Regions from separate parts of the Homo sapiens genome. Here region 2 is linked to region 1. Evidence: fine-mapped expression QTL. Tissue or cell type: whole blood. Region 1 holds a variant in brackets; the other region holds the start of a gene. All regions are shown on one strand. Distances are between the middles of the regions.

The links. PIP is the estimated chance that this variant, and not a neighbour inherited with it, causes the effect.
Region 2: PPP2R5C starts here. The variant in region 1 is fine-mapped to the expression of PPP2R5C in whole blood (INTERVAL, PIP 0.96).

What each region holds. Positions count from the first base shown.
Region 1 is chr14:101,807,914-101,816,146 of GRCh38, forward strand. The region is part of intron 3 of PPP2R5C (protein phosphatase 2 regulatory subunit B'gamma); the gene reads left to right. It overlaps LOC124903388 (a long non-coding RNA gene), which reads right to left and starts at 3,077. Exons shown (of 2, transcript XR_007064349.1): 1 at 2,304-3,077. RefSeq lists enhancers at 79-373, 2,123-2,705, 2,297-2,376. The variant A/C (reference allele first, on the strand shown) is at 3,216.
Region 2 is chr14:101,758,431-101,766,590 of GRCh38, forward strand. It overlaps PPP2R5C (protein phosphatase 2 regulatory subunit B'gamma), which reads left to right and starts at 3,279. Exons shown (of 16, transcript NM_001352913.2): 1 at 3,279-3,490; 2 at 4,475-4,540. The coding sequence starts at 3,464. It overlaps LOC107984658 (a long non-coding RNA gene), which reads left to right and starts at 5,649. Exons shown (of 2, transcript XR_001750901.1): 1 at 5,649-5,856; 2 at 6,724-8,160. RefSeq lists silencers at 2,125-2,234, 2,305-2,454, 2,515-2,564, 3,025-3,184, 3,195-3,434 and 2 more.

The DNA of each region.
Region 1 (8,233 bases):
CAGTTGTAGGATAGGCACATTTTTTCATCTTATCTCGTATGAAATATTAAATCATTGGAGGGCAGGTCTCTGTCTCCTTAAAGCCCAGATCTTCAATAAGCATCTGCTCCTGGGCTCCTTCCTGAGCCCCTGAACGCCTCGTTCCTAATTGTGTCTGAGTTCATCTGGCATCACTCAGAGGAGGAGGAGGAGGAGGAGGCTGGGGTGTGGGGCAGTGAGAGTCATCAACACTGCTTCCTAGTGGTCGTTGGTGATCGGTGGCCATCCCCTCCAGACAGACAACCCACAGGTCAGCAGTGAAGGCTTAGAGGCAGGAGGGCAGCTAAGATCTAAATTCCTCTTACCCAACTGAAAGCACGTGCTCTTTAAAAAAAAAATTAATTCTGCTGTTCAGATAGCAGCAAAGTCAGAGCAGGTGTGAGGCCGGCAGCCTGCTCAGGTGGTGCGTGCCCACTGCCCACTTGTGTTAGAAATCACATCATCTCCTGGCCGGCCATGGAATCCAGCACTGTCTGTCAGCTCTGGGGAAAGAGGGGGAAGGGTGGGATTTGGTTTGCTTTTATCTATTTATTTTAGTTGCTATTGATACACACAATAAAAGCTACATTCTTGTGAGGGAGGACTTGATTAGCAGCCCTGAAGGGCGGTAGCAGTTCCCTTACTCATTGAATGTATCTGGCGCTAAACCCTCAGCTGGAACTGCGAGCCCTAGCTGTATTTCAGGTGTTTCTTACTCTACTGTGAATTATGTTTAGGAACTAAAGGGCTTTTGTATCCTTCACAAGTGGGGGGAAGAGAGCAGGGGAATTGTGTGAGAAACTATTAAAAATGAGGAGCCATGGTTTGGACAAACTTCCTTGTTGGTGTGAAGAAAGGAGGAATTTTTTTCAGTTCCACCTGCCGAAGAGGCTTTTCTTATAGTTCGTTTTCATTTGGAACTACTAATAACACTCATTTTTGTAGGGAATCATCTCACCGCACCCCCTCATGGGATCCTGCAATACTCCATCCAATTCAGAAATAATGTTTTTCTCCTTGGAATAGCTTTTTACATTAACTGTATTTGAAGATAGAAAATTTAGATCTGAATAGCAGCTTTTAATAGCCCCATAAAAATAAGTGAAAATATCTTTAATTTTAAATTTAAACAAAATATCTAAAACTTAAAAGGTATTTAATATGTCAGCATATTTGCAATACAAAAATAAACATGCTCCATTTCATTTTTTTGCTTTCTTACTCCCACGGCCAGGTGATATAAATATTTCAATTTGTGTCACTTTCTAGCTATCGAATTTATAAAGCGGCTTTCATTTTCTACGTAAGTTTTTAAGCTTAATTTTTTCAGGGAAAAAATAGATCTCAAGAAAAAAAGTGTTTGGGATCATAAGTTAATAACTCATCCTATTGGTAAGGGAAGTTGAATAAGAGTCCAAACTAATGGATTAGAATTGTGTAATATTTGCTTAACCATTTGTTAAAAAAAAAAAACAAAAAAAAAACACTGGGTTGCCAGAATCCTACCTAAGATGCAGATATTAATTAGAACTAGCAAGTCGAAGTTGCACAGGTGGGTATAAAATGAATTTGGGATCCCTCACTGGGAAATGCTAAAGTTCACACAGACATATACACACACTTTTTTTTTTTTTTTTTTTTTTTTTTGGTGGCTCCCTCGAAATCATTTGTTTACAGTCTGGCCAAGGTTGTGGCCTCCAGTATTCCCCCTAAGAGATGGGATCTTTGCCTAAAAGTTACTGAGAAACGAAGGCTGCAAAAAGCCGGAAAATATCCCAGCTTTTAAGGCACACTGACAGCCAAACAGAACGCTCTTTCCGTTTGCAGTTTTTTTAGTGTCATTTTAAGTTGCAGCTTCCGGCCAATCAGCGAGCTTCATGCCTGCTGACATCACGAACCAGCCAGTTCCCTCCAGCTGCAGAGAGCTTCAGTTTGTCTTTTTTTTTTTAAACTAAAATGGAGGCTGGTTTCTTGCCTTAAGGAGCCCATTGCCTTTCCCGCTGAAGTCTAGATGTTGACATGTAATAAAGCGGGCAGCAGGATGGTGGTGGATGCGGCCAACTCCAATGGGCCTTTCCAGCCCGTGGTCCTTCTCCATATTCGAGGTAAGTTATTGTGTGTTTCACTGAATCGGAACCTTCCGTGGGTAGTTAATAAATGGCTATTGTGCTTCAGATAAGAAAAGCAGGAAGTCCTTTCTAGCAGAATTCACCCCATTTCGCTGCAGACTTAACCAGAGGAGGTTGGGTGTGTCACTGCAGTTTGGCATTTTACGAACTACTTACAGAATTTGAGGCTTGAAAGAGGCCTTGCATGCATAGTTCAAAGCTGGTTTTTCTGCTTTCTGCTCGCTCTCCCATCCCCCTTTCAAAGCTGTGCTGATGTCAAAGGATGTGAAGTCACTGCCCAGGGAAGGTATTGGGTGGGGGTAGGAAGGAGAGGCGGGCCTGTCGCGCCTGGCCAAGTTGTTCGTACGCAGAGTTTCTGTTACATATGTGTGGCTTAATGCTGCAAAGGTTTTGTCGAGGACACATCTCAGAATTAAAGATGAATTGCAGTCAGAAAATATGCACAATTGATTGGAAAAGAACTTCCTTTAAAAGGATTGTTTTCATTCTTGCCGTGGAGCCTGAGAGAGAAATATGCTCCACTTTGAAATATTGAAATCTATCGTGGGTCATCATTTTTGAAATGTTAGCGTTTTCGTGGAATATTAGGAAATATTTTGCATTTAAATAGGCTCTGTGTTGCCAGTTGGCTTTTAAAATTTTAAATGGCAACAAGTTTTCAAGGTATATAGAGATCACTGTTTTAATAATTAGTTTGCTTCTTTTTATGCATATTTTGGTTTCAAAACTTAGCCTAAAAGCACAACTACTCTAGTAATTAATAGCGGTTATATTGAACTACAGGCATCAGGGTAGTAGCCTACTTATTCTTGGTATTTTAAGATATATGAATTTTTTTTTGGTCATAATTGGGTGAAATAGAAAAATGATTTTAAGCTTCATCAGATCACTTTAGAATTTATAGTATCAGAGCTGTGCCCCAACAAAACTGTTTCTCAGAATCTCTTTTAAGGAAGGGTGGGAGCAAGATTTCTAGGTGACTAATAATCTCTATGACTAAAACGCCAGGCCAGACTTTTCAGATCCTAGGGTGTACCCAGGCACATGCAGACTCAATCTACTGGAATA[A/C]AATGGGTGGTGCTTTTCTCTCCAAACTATCTTTCATGAAGGTGGAAATCAGCATTCAATGACCAAATTGTAGGACAGGCTGTGAATTTATTGTTTTTGTAGTGCACCCAGTAAAAAGCAAAGGTTGCCTACAGGTAACATTCAGGTATTTTAGCTGCAAGAACCAAATGGGCAAGAACAAAATGTAATTGTTTGGATTTAAGTTAGATAGCTTTTGTTTGTTTTTTGGGAGACAGGGTCTCACTCTTGTCACCCAGGCTGGAGTACAGTGGTATGATCACAGCTCACTGCAGCCTCCACCTCCCGAGCTCAGGTGATTCTCCCACCTCAGTTTCTTGAGTAGCTGAGACTTCAGGCACGCACCACCATGCCCAGCTAATTTTTTAATATTTTTTGTAGAGATGGGGTTTTGCCATGTTGCCCTGGTTGGTCTTGAACTCCTGGGCTCAAGCGATCCTCCCACCTCCGCCTCCCAAAGTGCTAAGATTACAGGTAAGAGCCACTGTACCTGGCCAAGTTAGTTCTTAAAAACGAACTAGTTAGCAGTAAGATAAATTAACTGCATATAAAATGTAAATTTTTATACTTTTAAGGTATCCACTTATAAATAACATAAATCTTTTTGGTTTGTGTTTTCTGGTTTTTATTAGATGCCTAATATACTACTCAGTTTTTGAATTATGAACTTATTCTGAAATAGAATCATTTCACGTTGTGTCTTGAACCACATTGATTTTTTTTTTAAAATTCCAAGACCTTATTATGGCCAGTTTGTATTTGTTGCTGTTGGTTGGGTGGTTGGTTGCTTGCTGTATAATTGTGGAGGGAAAAAGCAGTGAAGTGTATTAGCCTGAAAGAGACTTGAGTTTTTAAGAAGGGATAACTTTGGAGACCTAAGACTAACTTCTGACTCAAACAGTGGGGGTAATTTCTAACTTCAAAATTTGAAGAACGCTTGATTTACTCATAAAGACTTTTCTGGAGCGAGCATGTTAATGTGAGATTTAGCAAAATTTGATTTATTTATTGGGCCTTAGAGTCTTAGCTTAACATCCATTGAGCAGCTCCGGTGTGCCAAGTGCTGAGCGTCATTACAGTGATTAAGTTGCAGCCCCTGTCCCAAAGGAGCGAATGGAGAGACCCAGCATAGGAGCTCTGCCACGAGAGGGCTAAAGCAAGAACACACCGGCAGGGTGCCCGGGAGAGCAGGGGCTGGTGTCAGGAGCAGAAGGAACCAAGGAGGGCTGCACCCTGGGCTACCCTGCTCACTCGGATGGGGTGGGCATGCGCTGTCCTTCCCGTTTATTTAGGAAGGAGGGGTCTTTCCCACTGAAGGAGAAATAACTTACCCAAGGTCACACAGCCTGGAAGTGGTGGAGCCAGAATCCAAACCCAGACTGTTGTGTTGTTTTGTTTTGGATCTTTTTAAAAAAATCATTTTAAAATAGGAATGTTGGCTGCTTGAAGAACATTTTGCTACAGGATTACAGTAGTGGTATTTTCCCCAATGCCTTACCATTTATTTGGCTCGGTAGCCTCTTTTTGTATAACAGTTTTGTACCTTGGGCTCATTTATTAATCATTTTACAAATATTTATTGATCCATACCACATGCCAGGCAGGGTTCTAATGTGGATATGAGCAGGGGCTATGGCCCAGCTTTCCCAGTTTACCATCCATCAGGGTGGGGACCAAGTAAGTAAGTAAGGAAAATGATCACCTGATTTGTTGTCACGATCGCTTTGACCATTATTGTCTACCAAGTAGTCTGGACTTTGCGATTAAAATGGTGAATTTGCACATCCTAATAAGTTTGAGTGTGAAAGGGACATATTTTTGAGAGTTAGTGTAAGCCCTTCTGTCTGTAGAAGGAGAGTCACCTGGAACTTGATGGCTGTGAATGTAGCTTGGTGACATAAATCCTCACTCTCAGCTGTGTCCAGGAGAACTGTCTGCTGTGGTGGAAATGTTCTGTGCTGTCCTCTGCAGCAGCCCCTGGTCACCTGCGACTGCTGAGCACTTAACATATACAGCTGAGAAAGTGAATTTTTAACTGTAGTTATTGTAAATTTAAGTGGACACACCTGTCTTGTGGCTAGGATATTGGACAGCACAGTCGTAGACTGGAATTGTTCGACTTTTTTGGAAAAGGACCAGATTGTAAGTAGCTTTGGCTTTGTGGGTGAAAGCAGCCATAGACAGTAAATGAATAGGCATAACTGTGGTCCAATAAAGCTTTATTGACAAACAGGTGACAGGCTGGATTTGGCCCATGGACCATAGTTCACCAACTCTGTTCTAGACTGTTCTTTGACTTTCGGAATTGCCTGTTAAGGATAGGAAAGCATGTTTCCTGCAGGCCTTCAGTCTAGTGCCTCCTCCCTGTGCTGGGAAGCTGGGCCAGCCGTGATGCTGTGAGGCGTGGTGGGTGGGCCCACTTCCCACCCTGCAGCGCATGCTCACTTCAGGAGCCAGGTTTAAGGCAGTGACAGCCAAGCCGGAAAGATGGTAATGGCCAGAGAGGAAGCACACAGTTTGAGCCTTTTCCAGCTGGCCCTTATTCTGGGCTTCAAGAATGTTATTAACTGCTCTCATCTTGTTCTAGTCATTAGCAAACTTATCCAGTGGATGAGTCTGTCCTTGAAAGACTCAGGAGTAGCTCCAGCCTGGTGGGATGTTGGAGAACAAACCATTCTTTTGATGTAAACCCATTTTTTCTTGGGAAGTGGAAGTCTAATGGAAAAGTTTATTTTCTCACAAGTACTTCCTGAGTCACCAATTTGTTGAAGGTCTTCACCTTTCCAATAAAAACTCATTAAAAAACATGCAAGAAGCAAGCACAGAACTCAAACCCATGGCTTTCATTTCCTGCTGCGCTAAATCTGGTGACTTAACCTATATTAATAATAACAATAGCTATACATAATGCACATGGGTTGCTAAATTAGTAACACACCTGCATGGTGTGAAGTCAGTAAGTACTAGTGAGAATGGGTGCCCCCTGTTATCTTTATTCCCTAAAATTAGGAAGGAAAAATGTTTGAATGATGACTAAACAGTTCTTCAAATAATTAAACCAGTGATCCTCTGAACAGTGCCTCAGCTCAAGATTTTTACTTCACAAACATCTCTTTACTATGTAACTGCAGCTCTCTGCAAAGTGACTTTATAGAACTACAGCCTTAACCTTACCCATATCCTATCCTGTATCCAATCCTGTATCCTAGGTGTGAAGTTGTTTCTTTCGTATTCCTGGTGGTGTGGAAGGTAACCAAAGTAACAGATAACTCTCTGAGGAAACAGGGGTGGGTATGTTTGTGTAAAGTCTGTACACCTTTTTGTTCCTTAAACACACACACATTTATGCTCATAAACACACTCTCATCCACCTCCCTCATCCATACGCTCTCAATCTCAGAGGCAAAAACAAAAGCTTACCATCCAGCTTGGGTCTAATGTCTGCTCAGGAGGTTTTGCCTTGCAGCAAAAGCTATCTTCTAAAATTTTCTCATTAAAGTATGTTGTGTAGAGGAATGAAAGAAAAATAGAGGTAAGGTTATTAGTCAAGAATAGGGTGTGTGTTTTTAAACCCAGGAAAAGAATAGACAGAAACACAAAGACAAAGTGGTTTGGGATACATCCTAACTTTTGGTTCCATATGTCAAATAAAATTGCGAGGTGGTTCTTTTTGGATCCTACAGCACTTTGCCAATTGTGACAAGCTGTTGTGAACACTCATGTACTTCTTCCTCACAGCACTCCTGCCTGGCAGGTGAGCAGGACAATCCTAGTATTTCTCCTCCCCAAGGTCACCCAGCCTAGAGGGTCCAGTCCAGGGCTGTTGGCAGCACCAAGTACGAGGTCCCGAAGCTGCTGCTGGTGGCTGTCCCAGAGGAGAAGCAGCATACGTTGAGTGCCTTCAGTGTGCTAGGTCACAGCTGAAACCCTGTACCTCTGTTCTCTCTCTGAATCTGCCCAACACTGTGAGGCATTATAACCCTCCCCCACTCACTACCGCCCCTGCCTTTTTTGTCCCCCCGGGAGAAAAAAGGGAGCCTCTTGCCCAGGGCCACAGAGAATGTAGTGAAACAAGATTTGAGCCTCAGTCAGTCTGATAGCAAAGCTCATGTTCTTTGCTCTGCAGACATCAGAGTGTTGAGAGATGCTGGTGAAAGCTCCCACCTCATAGGTACTTTTTGATTTTTACTGTTTTCTGTACAGTGGTAATGGATTTGAGTGTCTGGAGTTCAAAACTCATTTCAGGGTTGAATAGGAGTTTGTTAAAGGTTTACATGCGTATGTTCTTGGTGTGCAGGGAGAAAGTTGATAATCTTACCTGCTGTCCCAGTTCACTTACCAAATCTGCCAGCTAGTAACTGTTGACTTACCTCCTCCACAAAATCAGGAGTATCCCGAGGACAGTCCTGTTGAACTTGTTCTCTGGTGACACTGAGCATTATTCCTAGAGTAGAGGCATCAGTTAGTGTCAGTGGATTAAAAATTAAAAGTTATCTCTGAGTGATCACTCAGGAAATAGCTATCTACTATATTTCTTTTTTGAGTTGGAGTCTCGCTTTGTCACCCAGGCTGGGGTGCAGTGGCGTGATCTCGGCTCACTGCAACCTCTGCCTCCCAGGTTCAAGCGATTCTCCTGCGTCAGCCTCCCGAGTAGCTGGGATTACAGGTGCATGCCACCACGCCCGGCTATTTTTTGTATTTTTAGTATAGACAGGGTTTCACCGTGATGGCCAGGCTGCTCTCGAACTCCTGACCTCAAGTGATCCGCCCGCCTTGGCCTCCCAAAGTACTGGGATTGTAGGCATGAGCCACCACACCCGGCCTATCTGATGTATTTCTTAGCTAAATACCTCATCAGTGGAATGAGAAGCTCATGAGAAGCTGTACTTTATTTTTCTTTCAATCCTCTATACGCTGTAGTTAACGTATTTCAATGAAAAACATATAGGAGATGGCTTTTGCTGCAAGGCAAAAACCTGCTGAGCAGACGTTATACCCAA
Region 2 (8,160 bases), 50 kb before region 1:
CCATCCTGGAAGAGGTAACCCTCAGCCACACACACACACACACACCCACATAATGGCTTTATATCCTATCTCAATAGCTTGTCCTGAATCCCTTCTTTTGGGAGCAGGAGCTATATCTATCTTTAGCGTTCCTGTAAATACCACAGCACCTAAGACACTGCATGAAACCCAGTGTGTTCTACGGGTAGTCGGTAACTAACTGTCCTTAAAGATGGTCCTCCCTAATGTGGGCAAATGAAGCCAGTCCAATGGCCAGTGACGTACACATGCAGTTGTACAGGTAATGGTGTTGAGTCAGATTTCTCTGGTTGCTATGGTTTCAAGGTCACTGGATGTTAATCAGGCAGCTTTGCTTGTACCCTGTCCCTATGCTTTCCCTAAAACTCTAAACTGACCTGAGAAACCTCTAACCTGACATGCAACTAGTCCTCTATGCTATATTTCCAGTTGCCATCTTGGACACCTCTACCTACATTTTGCGGACACAGCAACGTGTCCCAAACTGGAATCTTGTTCCCTTGCAAACCTGCCCTCCACTTGCATCCCTTCCTCATCATTCACTGTGTTGCCCAAACTACAAGCATGAGCATTCGCTTTTTATCCTCGATTCTGGCTCTCTGTCGCGTCGGCGATCCTTCCCCCCGTTGCTGTGGAGATGCCTCCCTGGCACGCACCTGAACCATAGCTGGATGCTGATTGCTCTTTCTGCCTCCTGCTTTTACTTCCACCCTCACCTCCTCCACACTCCTGCCACCGATGTCTTCTAAAATGCAAATGTGAGTACATCACTCCCCACTTCAGTATCTGTCAGTGACCCTGAAATGCATTCAAAAAGAAGTACAATATCTTGGCAAGGTCTACCAGTCTTAATTCAGCGTCGCTGTTCCTTCAGTCTCATCTCCGGCCATAACAAAACGTCCTGTGCAGTGCTCTGTCATGCTTCCAAGCCTGACCCCCCTCACCCCAGTCCTGTAGACTTGTCACATGTCATGTCCTTCTGATTGCTGGTTTTTTCTATTTCCATGCAAGCATGTGAACTGCTTGAGGACAAGGGTAGTGCCTTGTTCACCATGAAATTTCTGGCATCATGCTTTGCACATAGTAGTTATCCAACAAATGTGGGTCGAATGAATGAATTGTATGCAACACCGGATCAGGAGATATGATACAAGGATTTGGGTGGCAAAGGATTGTCTCAGAGATGCCTCTAAGCCTCCCTAAGAGTTCATGGCCATAAACCAATAGTTTCAGAGCTACTCCTTTTTGATATGGATATATCCTGGACTTATTAAATTGACAGCACATATTTTATTTTTAAAATGTTATTAAGTTAACTAGGGGCATCGCTCTATCCTCAAAATTGTTTTGGAGACACCATTAACCCACTTAAATTATTAATAAAAAAGCCACTTATTCCGCACAAATAGTTGAGACTGTCCTGCTTACCTACAGATATTCGTCTAAGAGCCGGCAGACATTCAGATACCCGCAGACAGAACTTACTTTCTGGACCTCCCACAACATTCCTCCCTTTAGATCTTTTTTTTCTTACCCCGTCTTTCAGCTTTCTCATTGCAGAACTGCTGAGAATAATGGAAAATGCTTTGCCTGGAAACTTCCAAGAACAAAACTCCGGGGGCTAAGAGAACGCGATGATTTTTAAGCTGCCAGTTAAGATGCAGCTCCTTCATCATCACAGGTGAAGCACCAATGCCTCTCGCACGTGAAATCCGTACGCTCCTAGAGTCTTACTACCTAATGCATTTCTGCAATCTGGGACGCCTGTCCTTAGCGTCTTCAATAGTTTTGGGCACGAGGTGGACCGCGGAAGTATTGTATTGAAAAGTTAACGTTTTTCCCTTGGACACCCTCTCCTCACAGCTATTAACAAGCTGAGAGAAATCAGGTGACTCCCAGTCATGCAGAGGTTTCCTCACCATTTATGATCAAGCCAAATTAAAGAATAAAAATAAAATCCTATTGGCGCAGCGGCCACCAAGTCTTTGAGGCCTCGCCTCGGTGGGCGGGGCCGACGCCGGAGGAGAGGGGCTGCGCATGTGGGCGTGACCTCGCGGAAGGAGCTGCGGAGGGCGGGGCCGACTGGAGAGGGGCGGGGCTGTCGGGTGGGTGGGACCTCGCGGCAAAAGCTGCGGAGGGCGGGACCAACCAGGAAAGGACGGGACTGTCGGGTAGGCGGGACCTTGCGGGAGAAACTGCGGAGGGCGGGACCAACCAGGGAGGGGCGGGCTGTCGGATGGGCGGGACCTCGCGGGAGGAGCTGCGGAAAGCTGAGCTGGTGAGGGGAGGGGCTGGTCGAGGGGAGGGGCTGGTCGAGGGGAGGGGCTGGCCGAGGGAAGGGGCCGGCCGAGGGGAGGGGCCGGTCGAGGGGAGGGGCCGGTCAAGGGGAGGGCCCGGCCAAGGGGAGGGGCCGGTCGAGGGGAGGGGCCGGTCGAGGAGAGGGGTTGGTCGAGGGGAAGGGCTGGCCGAGGGGAGGGGCTGGCCGAGGGAAGAGGAGGGGAGGGGACGGGCTGGTCGAGGGGAGGGGAGGGGAGGGCAGGGGACGGGCTGGTCGAGAGAAGGGGAGGGCAGGGGACGGGGTGGTCGAGGGGAGGGGACGGAGGGGAGGGGAGTGGAGGGAGAGGAGGGAAGGGGAGGGGAGGGAAGGGAGGGGAGGCGGGGCCCAGCGGTGTCCCGCGAAACTGCCGCTCGCTCGGTTCCCGGGCCTCCCCGTGCGCCTCAGTGCAAAGCGTGCCAGGCACTCTTGACTGCAACGAGAGCCGCGGCGGTGAGGGGGCAAGGCCAAGAGGCCACGGTTCGCGTTTCGCCGGCTGCAGAAGTTGTTGCCATACATTTCAAATGTGCATTTCCTACGTCTCACGCTCTGTCTTGCGCCTCCACAGCGGGCCACGGCCCTGTCACCGCAGTCGCAGCCACATGCTCCCTCCCCTGAGTCGGCTCAGCTCTGCTCAGCGGTCAGCCCCGCGCCAGGAGGCCGCGGCCTGCCTGAGGCCGGCTCGCAGCGACTCGGGACGGAGGGCGGGGGCGTGAACGGGTCGCGCGGAGAGGGTGGGGGGAGCGGGGAGCGTTAGGGTACGTGGGGGCGCGTCGACCAATGGCAGGGCGCTGTTGAGTGCAGCGGGGCGGGGCCGGGCGCGGGGGTGGGGCGAGCGGCGGGCGGGGCGGGGCGGCCGGCCGGGGGGTGGGAGGAGAGGGGCGGGGCGGGCCGGCCGGGGGAGGGGCGGAGAGACGCCGCCGCTGCCGCCGCCGCCGCCGCCGCCGCCGCCGTGGCTGCCGCAGCCTCTGGGAGTCTGGAAAAGGGGAAGCGAGAGCAAGCGAAAGACTCAGTCCCCGGGCGGCGGCGGCGGCGGCGGCCGCGGGGGCGCGACGGCCGGGGCGGGGGCGCTGCTGCTGCGGGGGCAGGCGGCGGCAGGGGCGGCGGCGGCGGCGGCGGCCCGCTCCAGCCATGCCGAATAAAAACAAGAAGGAGAAAGTGAGTCCGGGCCCGGCCGCGGGACGGAGGGAGCAGGGAGGGACTGCCGGGGGAGGGCGCGACGGCACCGGGGTCCTGCGCCCGGGCCCCGGCTCAGTTCCCCGCCTGACGCCGCGGGCTTCGCGTCCCCGAGGGCGGCCGAGCCAGGCATCCCCGGGCTTCTCTCGGCCTCATGCCCGGTGGGGGCGGGGAGCCCGGGGATCGCGCCGGAGCCGCGGGGCGCAGGCCCGGGCCGCTGGGACCTTCGTGATGGGCCGGGGCTGGGCGTGGAGGGAGGGCGCGGCCCGGGGAGGGGGTCGGAGGGGCGCCCGTTTCCGACAGCGCGCCGTGGGCTTGGGCGGGCAGGTGCGGCCGCCGAGGGGGTTCGCAGCCTCGCAGGCTCCCGGAAAGGAGCTTCAGGGATGGGGGCTGTAGACGCCTGGGGAGGGACCCCTGTACGGGGGAAAGGGAGCGAGAAGGGACCCCGCTGAGAGCTGGTAAGGAATTCTCTGCCGCCCCGGAGGGACGCTCTGGGGCTCTCGAACACTATTATTATCCTGGGTGGCGGCGGCGGTGAGGGCTGCGAGCAAGGGTGCTGCGTTTGCATTCGGGGGGGCGGGTATGTTTCTGCTTCAGGTGGAGCTCTGTAGCGTTTCATTATCACCCCAGAAATCCTCACTCATAGGGTTTAGGGTGGGAGGGTAGAAAGGGATGTGATGTGGATCTCAAAATGCCAGAAGCACTGTATAAAATTGGATTTATCTGTTTTCTGCTTGAAGTTTTCAACCTCAAATGCAGATAAAACGAAAAGAATCTGAATGGGGGTTGGGGGGCATTGCACTGTTGGAATCCTAAACGGTATGATATAGAATTTCCTAATGGTATGAATTAAAAATATCAGAAGCTGTAGTTGTATAAATCACTTTTAAAACTGCATTTGGCTTATCTGATGTTTACCTGTCTAAAAAGTGAGAAGACTAATTGACTTTGCTTGATGTTTACCAGGAATCACCAAAAGCAGGGAAGAGTGGAAAAAGTTCAAAAGAAGGACAAGACACAGTAGAATCAGAGGTAACTGTCATCAAATATTGACTTTGTATTTTATACACAGCTTTTAACTTCAGGTAGAAAAACCGAGAGTGATAAAGCCTAGAATCTTCTAAAATGTTTCCCTATGTGAGGTTTTTTTTTTGTGGTGTCTTTTATAACCCTCAATTTTAGTTGTTTAGGTATTTACTGTTTTGCTTTGGAAAACTATTAATGATTTTATGAAAATTGTGCTTGCCTATGGGGTTTGTTTGTGGGTCTTTTGGGGTTTTTTTTGTTTTTTATTTTTTTGAGACGGGGTCTCACTTTGTCACGCAGGCTGGAGTGCAGTGGCGCAATCTCTGCTCACTGCTACCCCTTGCCGCCCAGGCTCAAGTGATCCTCTTACCTCAGCCTCCCAAGTAGCTGGGACCACAGGAACATGCCACCACACCCAACAAATTTTTTTTTTTTTTTAATAGAGTCTCACTCTGTCACCCAGGCTGGAGTGCAGTGGCGCGATCTTGGCTCACTGCAACCTCTGCCTCCCGAGTTCAAGCAATTCTCCTGCCTCAGCCTCCTGAGTAGCTGGGATTACAGGCACCCGCTACCACGCCCGGCTAATTTTTGTATTTTTATTAGAGACGGGGTTTCACCAGGTTGGTCAGGCCGGTCTTGAACTCCTGTCCTCGTGACCCGCCCACCTTGGCCTCCTAAGGTGCTGGGATTACAGGCCTGAGCCACCGTGCCCATCCTGGATCTGGTATTTTTAAGTTCATTTCCCACACCTCAAACCCAGCAACCCTCCTGTATAGATTGGTCTTATGCAGTCTATGGTGTTGCTATGTTGCTTTTAGCTTTAGGGTCATCTCCCCACCGCCACTTCCATTGCAAGCTGCCAGGCAACTCAGTGGTTAGTTCTTTTTCTTCCATCACCTTGTTTTCCTTCAAACCACCTCTGCTACTGACGTCCTGGGCTAGCTCCCTATTTCTGTTGACGGTCCCTTGGCCTCTTTCTCCAATAATGTTGGTATTTGAAAAAATTTACCTAGTTTTGGTATTTTATTATTGTTCACATTGTGTGTGTGTGTGTGTGTGTGTGTGGGCGCGCGCACTTGCGCGTCGGCCACTTGTAAATTTCTTTGCTTCTTGGCTTTGGCCTCATTGAGGAACAGCTGGAATGCCAAGTGAGCATTGCATCTACTTGACCAAGGTTGATGCTGTTCCTTCACACCGTGAAGTGCCTTCAGAGGATTTGCAGAGTCACCACTTTCCTTTGCCTTTTCTTCCTTGTGACTAATTGTTGAACTAGAGCACCTAGGGCCAAGGGTCCAGGAGCTGCGTGGACCCAGGCAGAGCCAGTAGGTCCTTTTGAATCCATGGGTAGCACATAATTGGGTTAATAGAGTGTCAGTTATCCAGAACTGGATCATTGAAGCCCCAGTCTTATCACAAATGACGTTTATTTGCCAGTGTCAGACTTCTTCCTGTAAGCCAAATTAGAATGAGTTCAGTTCTGTCTGGGAAACACAGTTAACTGGCGATGATCTGCAGTGGACTTTTTTTTAGCCCTGCATTCTCTCTTTTCTATCATTTGGTGTATTCTGAACCTCCCTCCTCTTCAGCAGGTGGTTTATTCCAGCAAATCTGTTGCCCTCCCCAAAGCAAAAAGCAGAAATCCAAAAGATTCCTTAAATGTCAATAGTTAGGATCATTTGTGCCAGTCTGTCCCTCCCTGTCTTTATAGCAGACAACTGAGGTTTACTGTGCCATGCTGGGATTTGACTTGTTTCTTTCTTCCCTGTCACCCTTTTGACTAAATTCATTTCGATGAAGATGAAATGTAGGTGCTTTATGAAGGTATATGCTATATGCCTTTTTTTTTTTTTTTTTTGGTCTTTTGATCTTTCATTAAAACTGCTAAGATTTCTTCTCCCCAGAGCTTTCTTGCTAATGTGCCTATATCCTCTTACTTTAGCTATATTCCTTATACAAAGGAGCATCAGTGTGTATATATCATTTATTTCTATTTTTAGTGGGAAGATCCTGGCTGTAAGGATGAATAATGTTAAGTTTAAACCTGAAAAATCTCAGTAGTTCAAAGATACCAAAATCACTACTATGTGAAATGTGTGTTTTGAAAGCAGTTTGCCAGCCGTGTGAGACCTGCGGTGTGGCCTGCAGTGCCTGAGTATGATGCCCCACTTGTCTTTTTGTATTTTTTCTAGTGCTACTGTCTAAGAGCTGGAGCTACAGAGCTTGAAATTACCACTGAAAACACTGAAATGTTGGGCCCTTCACTGCTTCCTCATAAGGATACCAGAGGCAACCTGGCATATTAAGCTTGACACTTGGCAGATCACTGTGTAAATTGTTTTTCAGGAATACAAGTTGGGACACTTCTGTTCATTTGACCTTTGAGTTGACCCTTAAATTTTATTATTGTTTTTTTTCCCCTCAGTCTTCAGCTCACTGCTTCACTTCTAGTTCCACCCACTTACCAAATATGATTGACTCATGCAGGTGAATTAAACCATTATTGCACACTTTTTCCCTCTCCTCTCTCTCAGTATTACTCTTAACTTGAATATTTTAACCTGAACAATTTAAATAGGCTTGACATTCCCATGCTGCTTTCAAGCCTTTTTTTTTTTTTTTTTGAGACAGAGTTTCACTCTTGTTCCCTGGCTGGAGTGCAATGGCACAGTCTCGGCTCACTGCAACCTCCACCTCCCGGGTTCAAGTGATCCTCTTGCCTCAGCCTCCCAAGTAGCTGGGATTACAGGCTCCTGCCACCATGCCCAGCTAATTTTTTTTTTTTTTTTTTTTTTTTGTATTTTTAGTAGAGACGGAGTTTTACCTTGTTGGCCAGGCTAGTCTCGAACTCGTGACCTCAGGTGATCCGTCTGCCTCAGCATCCCAAAGTGCTGGGATTACAGGCGTTAGCCACCATGCAGCCCCTTTCAAGCCTTTTAACATCATGTCACCTTCACAATGAGCAGTTGCTCCCATTACCCAGTGAACTCACCTTCTGATGGGACAGTTACCCTAGTTGGGGCTTCTCAGCCTTGAGAGATGTGCAGAGCAGGGACCTGTCCAGGGCAGAGCAGCCAGACAGCGTGGAAATAATCCAAACAGAGAAAGCATTCAAGAACTTGGCCTCTGGTTGACTTAACACACTACTTCAAGTATATGGCAGGTCTGTATAATAAACTCCTGCCTGTCTAGTCTTCAGCCTCATAGAAAGCAAGAAAGCAGGTGGCGTATGTTGCAGAACAATTCTTGGGTAGAACAAGGGGACATTTGATGGTTTGGGTTTTTCAGTAAGAAAGATGAAGTCCTGGAGTATAGGGTAGAGTGGTACAGTGGAAAATATTTCAGCTTGGGGGTTAGAAAATAAACATGCCGATTCTTGCTTTGCCATAAATGATGTCACCTAACTTGTGTGACCCTGTTTTCTCATCCCTAAAATGATTTGATAAGTTTAAGATTAGGCTATTTTTAAATGTATGGAAGAAATTGGGTGTTACCCTTCTTGAAAGACATTTTCCCTGCAAGTATGGCAGGCTGTATCTTTCAGTGTAACAAAGTTCTATTAAAGGTCATAACTGCTGCCCTGTAACTTTTGCCTTATTCTAGAAACTTCTACTCCTTGAATGACATGT